Homo sapiens: one gene and its partner. The protein of the gene in region 2 purifies or fractionates together with the protein of the main gene of each other region. This does not show direct contact. Each region holds a gene or a part of one and is shown on either strand. Other genes may lie near its edges.

Evidence for each region. Proteins that work in one complex are often made in the same cells at the same time.
Region 1: the proteins of TBC1D2B (region 2) and TFR2 purify together in Homo sapiens (affinity purification with mass spectrometry; one large-scale study listed by BioGRID and IntAct). This does not show direct contact.

The regions. Positions count from the first base shown.
Region 1 is NC_000007.14:100,619,920-100,622,236, forward strand, and holds the end of TFR2 (transferrin receptor protein 2), read right to left. Parts: exon of another isoform or gene 2,203-2,317; intron 1,208-2,202; coding exon 938-1,207; 3' UTR 501-937; downstream 1-500. UniProt on the Homo sapiens protein: Mediates cellular uptake of transferrin-bound iron in a non-iron dependent manner. May be involved in iron metabolism, hepatocyte function and erythrocyte differentiation.
Region 2 is NC_000015.10:78,018,712-78,022,211, reverse strand, and holds part of TBC1D2B (TBC1 domain family member 2B), read left to right. Parts: intron 1-3,500. UniProt on the Homo sapiens protein: GTPase-activating protein that plays a role in the early steps of endocytosis.

The DNA.
Region 1 (2,317 bases), on a different chromosome or scaffold from region 2:
TTGCCCGAGCTCAGGAGTTCAAGACCACCCTGGGCAACATGGTGAAACCCCCGTCTCTACTAAAATACGAAAACATTTAGCCGGGCGTGGTGGTGCACACCTGTAGTCCCAGCTACTCAGGAGGCTGAGGCAGGAGAATCGCTTGAGCCCGGGAGGTGGAGGTTGCAGTGGGCCGAGATTGTGTCACTGCACTCCAGCTTGGGTTACAGAGTGAGACTCCGTCTCAAAAATAAAAAAAGATACCGAAGGCCCCTTCTCCAAAGACCACCTGCTTTATGGTGGTCTTTGGAGAAGGGGCCTTCAGTATTTCCTTAGGCATTTTCCTTGAGTGATAGAAACAGCTCGGTTTTCCCCGTGGAGACAGCATTCCTGTGTGCACCCTCTCTGGTCCCTTCTGCCCAATTCCCTAGGTCTCTAGGAAGGGATGATGGGATGGGATGGGCATGAGGGTGAGGAAGAAGCATGAAGGCGCTTATCAATAACAGATGTCAACAGGTGGCTTATTGATATCAGGTGGTTTATTGATATTGAAACTCCACGCCCCTTTCACCACAGACCACCTGTTGGCCATAAGGCTATGGTGCCAGCGATCTCTCCCACTAACAGAGCTGGCCAGGTCCCAGGGCCTAGCAAACCTCCCAGAGTGGTCTCTAGGTATGGAGGACCCCAGAAAGGGGAAGGGGCTGTGATTGAAGGGATGCTACTCTCTGATTAACCGACAGTATGACCGTCACATTAGGGTCAGCTACACTGCAGGGCTGGGGTGTGTGGATATCTGTGCTGGGGTCTGGGCTCCGTGGAGAGATGTGTAGGGGTAATGAGAAATTGATCAGCAATGAGAGGTGGACTCTGAGCCACCTCCCTGACCCTGAATCATTCAAGCGAGGAGCAGAGGAGCTCTTGACTGGGGGACGGGGATGTGAGGATCCCCAGGGCCTCAGAAGTTGTTATCAATGTTCCAGACATCCCCGCTAAGCGCATTGGCTGCCCCTTGCAGCGTCCAGGTGAGCAGGGCTAGCTGACGCCGGAAACGGCTCTCCTGGAAGCCAGTGGAGGAGGTGGCCCCGGGGGTCCCGGAGCTGTTGGAGCGCAGCAGCCGCAGGTGGTCCAGCAGGGCGCCCAGCGTGTGGTCTCCACGGCCCATGAAGATGTGGCGGAACGGGGAGTCGGCTGGCGACACGTACTGGGAAAGGAAGTAGAACTCCACCTGCGCAGAGAGGGGGATCAGGTCAGGGTTGGGGGCTCTGGCTCGGGAGCAAAGGCCCGAGTCACCCTTCCCGCCAGCCAGTCTTTTTGTTTTTTTGTTTGTTTGTTTTCTTTTTGTGTTTGTTTTTTGTTTGTTCGTTTGTTTTGAGACGGAGTCTCGCTCTGTCTCCCAGGCTGGAGTGCAGTGGCACGATCTCGGCTCACTGCAACCTCCGCCTTCAGCGTTCAAGCGATTCTCCTGCCTCAGCCTCCAGAGTAGCTGGGATTACAGGCACCCGCCACGACGCCCGGCTAATTTTTGTATTTTGAGTAGAGACGGGGTTTCTCCGTGTTGGCCAGGCTGGTCTCGAACTCCTAACCTGAAGTGATCCGCCCGCCTTGGCCTCCCAAAGTGCTGGGATTACAGGTGTGAGCCACCACGCTAGGCCTCCCCTTCTATCTCTAGAACCCCTAAGCCTGCATGTAGTTCTCCCGAGTCTTCCTTCCTCACCCATTCAGTGAATGCTCAAAGCCTCAAAGAACAATCTATCGCCCTGCTGTTCCCTTCTTAACACCACACCTCCCCACACCGAGTCATTCTCCACCCCCACCAATGTCCACAGCCCAGAGACGAAGGTCAAGGGGACAGTCCAGTCCTCATGAAAAGCCTGGCTTTCCTCCCTCTGACGCAGCTGCTGTTCCGTCTTTCCTGAGACGGCCTTGCTCCTGACCTAATCTCCTCCCTCCTTTCTGCCAGCCTCTCCTAGTTTCCTAGCCTCTCCTAGCCCCATCTCTGGTTTGTTCTGCTTCCACCCGTGGGCAGGTCTCAAAGTTCCACCTCCCTCTTCTCTGTACCTATTAAATTATCATTGCCTGGGCACCGCCCCAGTAAAATCAGAATCTCTAGGGGGTGATCTCAGATGCTCACATCTTTTATTTTTAGAGACAGGGTCTCACTGTCACCCAGGCTGGAGTGCAGTGGTGCAATCACAGCTCACTGCAACCCAAACCCCAGAGGTCAAGTGATCTTCCCGCCTTAGCCTCCTGAGTAGTTGGGAGTGCAGGCACGTGCCACCATACCCAGCTGATTTTCAGATGCTCACATCTTTTTAAGGCCTCCATCATTCACTCA
Region 2 (3,500 bases):
CATTTTTATATTTTTAGTAGAGACAGAGTTTCGCCGTGTTGCCTGGGCTAGTCTTGAACTCCTGAGCTCAAGTGATCTGCCTGCCTTGGCCTCAGAATGCTGAGATTACAGGCATGAGCCATTGCATCCAGCAGACAGGTGAAATTTTTATTTTGCAAGTGTGTCTATTTCTGTAGTGCGTAGAACAATACTATAGTGGTGGGTTTCCAGGGCGTGCGTGACACTTGGCAGTGGGGGAGACGTGTGGAGCAGGTTTTCCCGGGGAGCGAGCCAGGGTGTGCGTGGAGGTTATGCTTCGTGGCTGTGGCGACTATGCAGCTCCTTCTGTAGACAGCTAACGGAGCTGATCGGGATACAGCGCTGTCAGAACAGGACATTCCCTCCTCTTTTCTTTTTGCAGCATAATGGGTGGAGTGGTTTTGAGCCATGAAGTTTTTTTCCTCCAACATTTCTCAACTTAACAAGTTTAGCAATTTTTAACAACTTAACAAGCCTGTGGCCCCAACATATCACAATTGTGAGGTGATGTGGCGACAGACGATGAAGAGGCAAAGTGGTTGTTAGGTGGATTCCAGGTGAGACAGTTGAGGCCTGCCTGGGTCCATGACCTCATGCTTTCTGACATTGCTCTGTTATTGCCAGTGCTGGGGGTCCCTCTGCAATGCAGAAGGTGTTCACACCTCATGCAGGTCTCCTCTGCAGTGGCACTGGGAGAACTGGAAAGGCTCCAGGGAGAAAGAGGGAGCGCACTGACAGAAGTGGGTGTTCTCGTGTGTGTTCCCTCATAGCCCTTCAGCTCTAGACAGGGTATGGTTGAGGAAGAAATATTGATTCCTACTTCTGATTCCAAATTTAAATGTCTAAGTGGAAAAATATATATATTTAAGATATATTTATTTAAAGTATATTTTATATATTTTTAATTTTAAAGATATGTTTATATATCTTTTTTGCTATTGCTGTTCTTGACCAGTTTTCATGCTTTATTGTCAGTGGATGCTGCCTGTAAAGATTTCTGCCATTTGGAATTTGTTAACTTTTTTTGGTGTGGTCTAATGCTTTTTGTTTCTATAGTATTCCGAGGCAGGAATAAACATTGGTCCTAGGATTTTGCCACCCTAGTGATTTAAGTCATTATTTCTCCATGTTTCCTTCCAATCCTTTTCTGTGTTTCCGTAATTCTTCCATTTTTGAAGTGTATGGACTTTCGGATTGTTCCATTCAACACTGTGGCCCCAGCACTTCCATATTGCTTTCATTAGCGATTTCAGTGTTGTCCATCCTTTGTGTTATCATTTACTTCATCCTTGTCTTTCTTCCTGCGTTTGCTGTTCCATGAATACCTCCGTGCCTACAGCTTCTCCTTCTTCCAGCTCATCTATGCATCCAGCTGTGTGCCCACCCTTTTACTCTGCACGGGTACACAGGCACTGCACTCCTGGGCCTCACAGTTTAGTTTAGAGGCACAAACAGAAAAGCAAAATGACAACTGGAGCAAGCACCAGGAGGGAAGGGGATGTGGAACAGCGTGGGGTGATGCTTTACATTGAGCATGGCCTCTGGAGCCAGCCCAGGTTGGATTCAAACCCAGATCACCACTTAGGACCTCTGACTTGGCCAGGTGAATTCATGTCTCTGCCTCAGTGTATTTGTCTGTGAAATAGTGCTTATTTTCCTCATAGGTATTGTGAGGGTTACAGGCGGTAATCCATGTAAAGCCCTCCCTCACACAGTGCCTGGCTCCTCATAAGGTCTTCACTGTTAGGTGTTGTTGCTGTGATCATCATCGTTCTAGAGAAAGTATCTGTAATATAAATGATCAGGACTTACTTAGACTGTAACACAAGTTTTAAGTTAAAGACATACATGGCGGCTGATGTTACTTGCTTTCACTGACCCCACCTTGTATCACTCAGTCTCTATCCATCACTGTTGAGTGCTTTCTTCAGTTGCCCTCCAGCCAGCTTTCCTTTGGCTGACCTGCCTTTTAGTAATATGTTTGCTTAATGTTTCCAAATATGAGACCTTTGGCCAGGTGCAATAGCTCATACCTGTAATCCCAGTGCTTTGGGAGGCCGAGGCAAGAGGATCACTTAAGGCCAAGAGTTTGAGACCAGCCTGGGCAACATAGTGAGATCTCATCTCTACAAAAAACATTAGCTGGGTGTGGTGGCCATGCCTTTGGTCCTAGCTACTCAGGAGGTTGAGGTGGGAGGATCACTTATGCCCAGGAGTTCGAGGCTGCAGTGAGCTATGACCATGCTACTGCACTCCAGCCTGGGCAAGAGTGAGACCCTGTCTCCCCCCCCCTTTTTTTTTTTTTGATACAGAGTCTCACTATTTCACCCAGTTTGGAGTGCAGTGGCATGATCTTGGCTCACTGCAGCCTCCACCTCCTGGGGTCAAGTGATTCTCATGCCTCAGAAAGGGTAGCTGGGACTATAGGTGTGCGCTATCACGTCTGGCTAAATTTTTTTTGTATTTTTAGTAGAGACAGGGTTTCGCCATGTTAGCCAGGCTGGTCTCAAACTCCTGGCCTCAAGTGATCCTCTTGCCTTGGCCTCCCAAAGTGCTGGGATTACAGGCATGAGTCACCATTCCCAGCCAACCTTGTTTCTTTAAAAAAAAAAAAGCTTTTAAGACACCAGTAGAAAGGAGATTCAGGTGAGAAAAGGAAGTCCAACATTCAACATTTCAAGTACTTGTCATGACGTGACAAGTACTTGAATGTGCTCAGGCTGAGTATGATGCCTATCGAAGTTCTAGTGGGAGTCGGGCCTGAGACCATGGAGCTAAGAGCCCACTGGTCTGGCTCTCAGAAGTCTGATTTGCAGGCTAGACAGTAACTGGGCAGCTTTCTATGGCTCAATTCTTCACCTCAAAAATAAAGATGGTGAGAATGGCTGCCTAAGAGTTGGAGTTTTAAACAAGATTAGGAATCTCACATGCCTAGCACGGGGCACCTGTAACCCATCGCAAGTGCTCCGTAAATGTTAGTGATTAAAGGGAACATTGAACCATTTTCAGTTCTTCTGCATTTTATGGGGGAAGTGGTATAATCCCGTGGTGGTTTCTTGTTTGGCGATGGGGAGTTTCTGTAGCCGCATCTCTGGGGAGCGGCAGCAGTCTCCTGCTTGTGATATCACCAGAGTCTGTCTTGACTACCCTGGCCTGCCGTTTGAGCTGTCTTGAACATAATTTCTTCTGTGACTGGGAGATTAGGAACCTCACACACCAGCCTGTCAGATTATAAAAGAGAAACAGAAGCTGGGGGAGAAGAGACACATTTATAAAAGACTAAATTTGTAAAGAACATTTAGAAGTCACTGCTCAGAGGTGATTCGGTTTAGTATCCTTAGCAGCTTCTTCAGTTCATTGTTTTTATTATTAGGAAAGTCTAAGGAAGTTTTCTGAGCTTCATTTTCAGTGTTTTACATGAAAACACTTCACCCCCTTTTTGGTTTGCTTTTTGTTGCTGTTGGATCCTTTCAGCTTTCTTG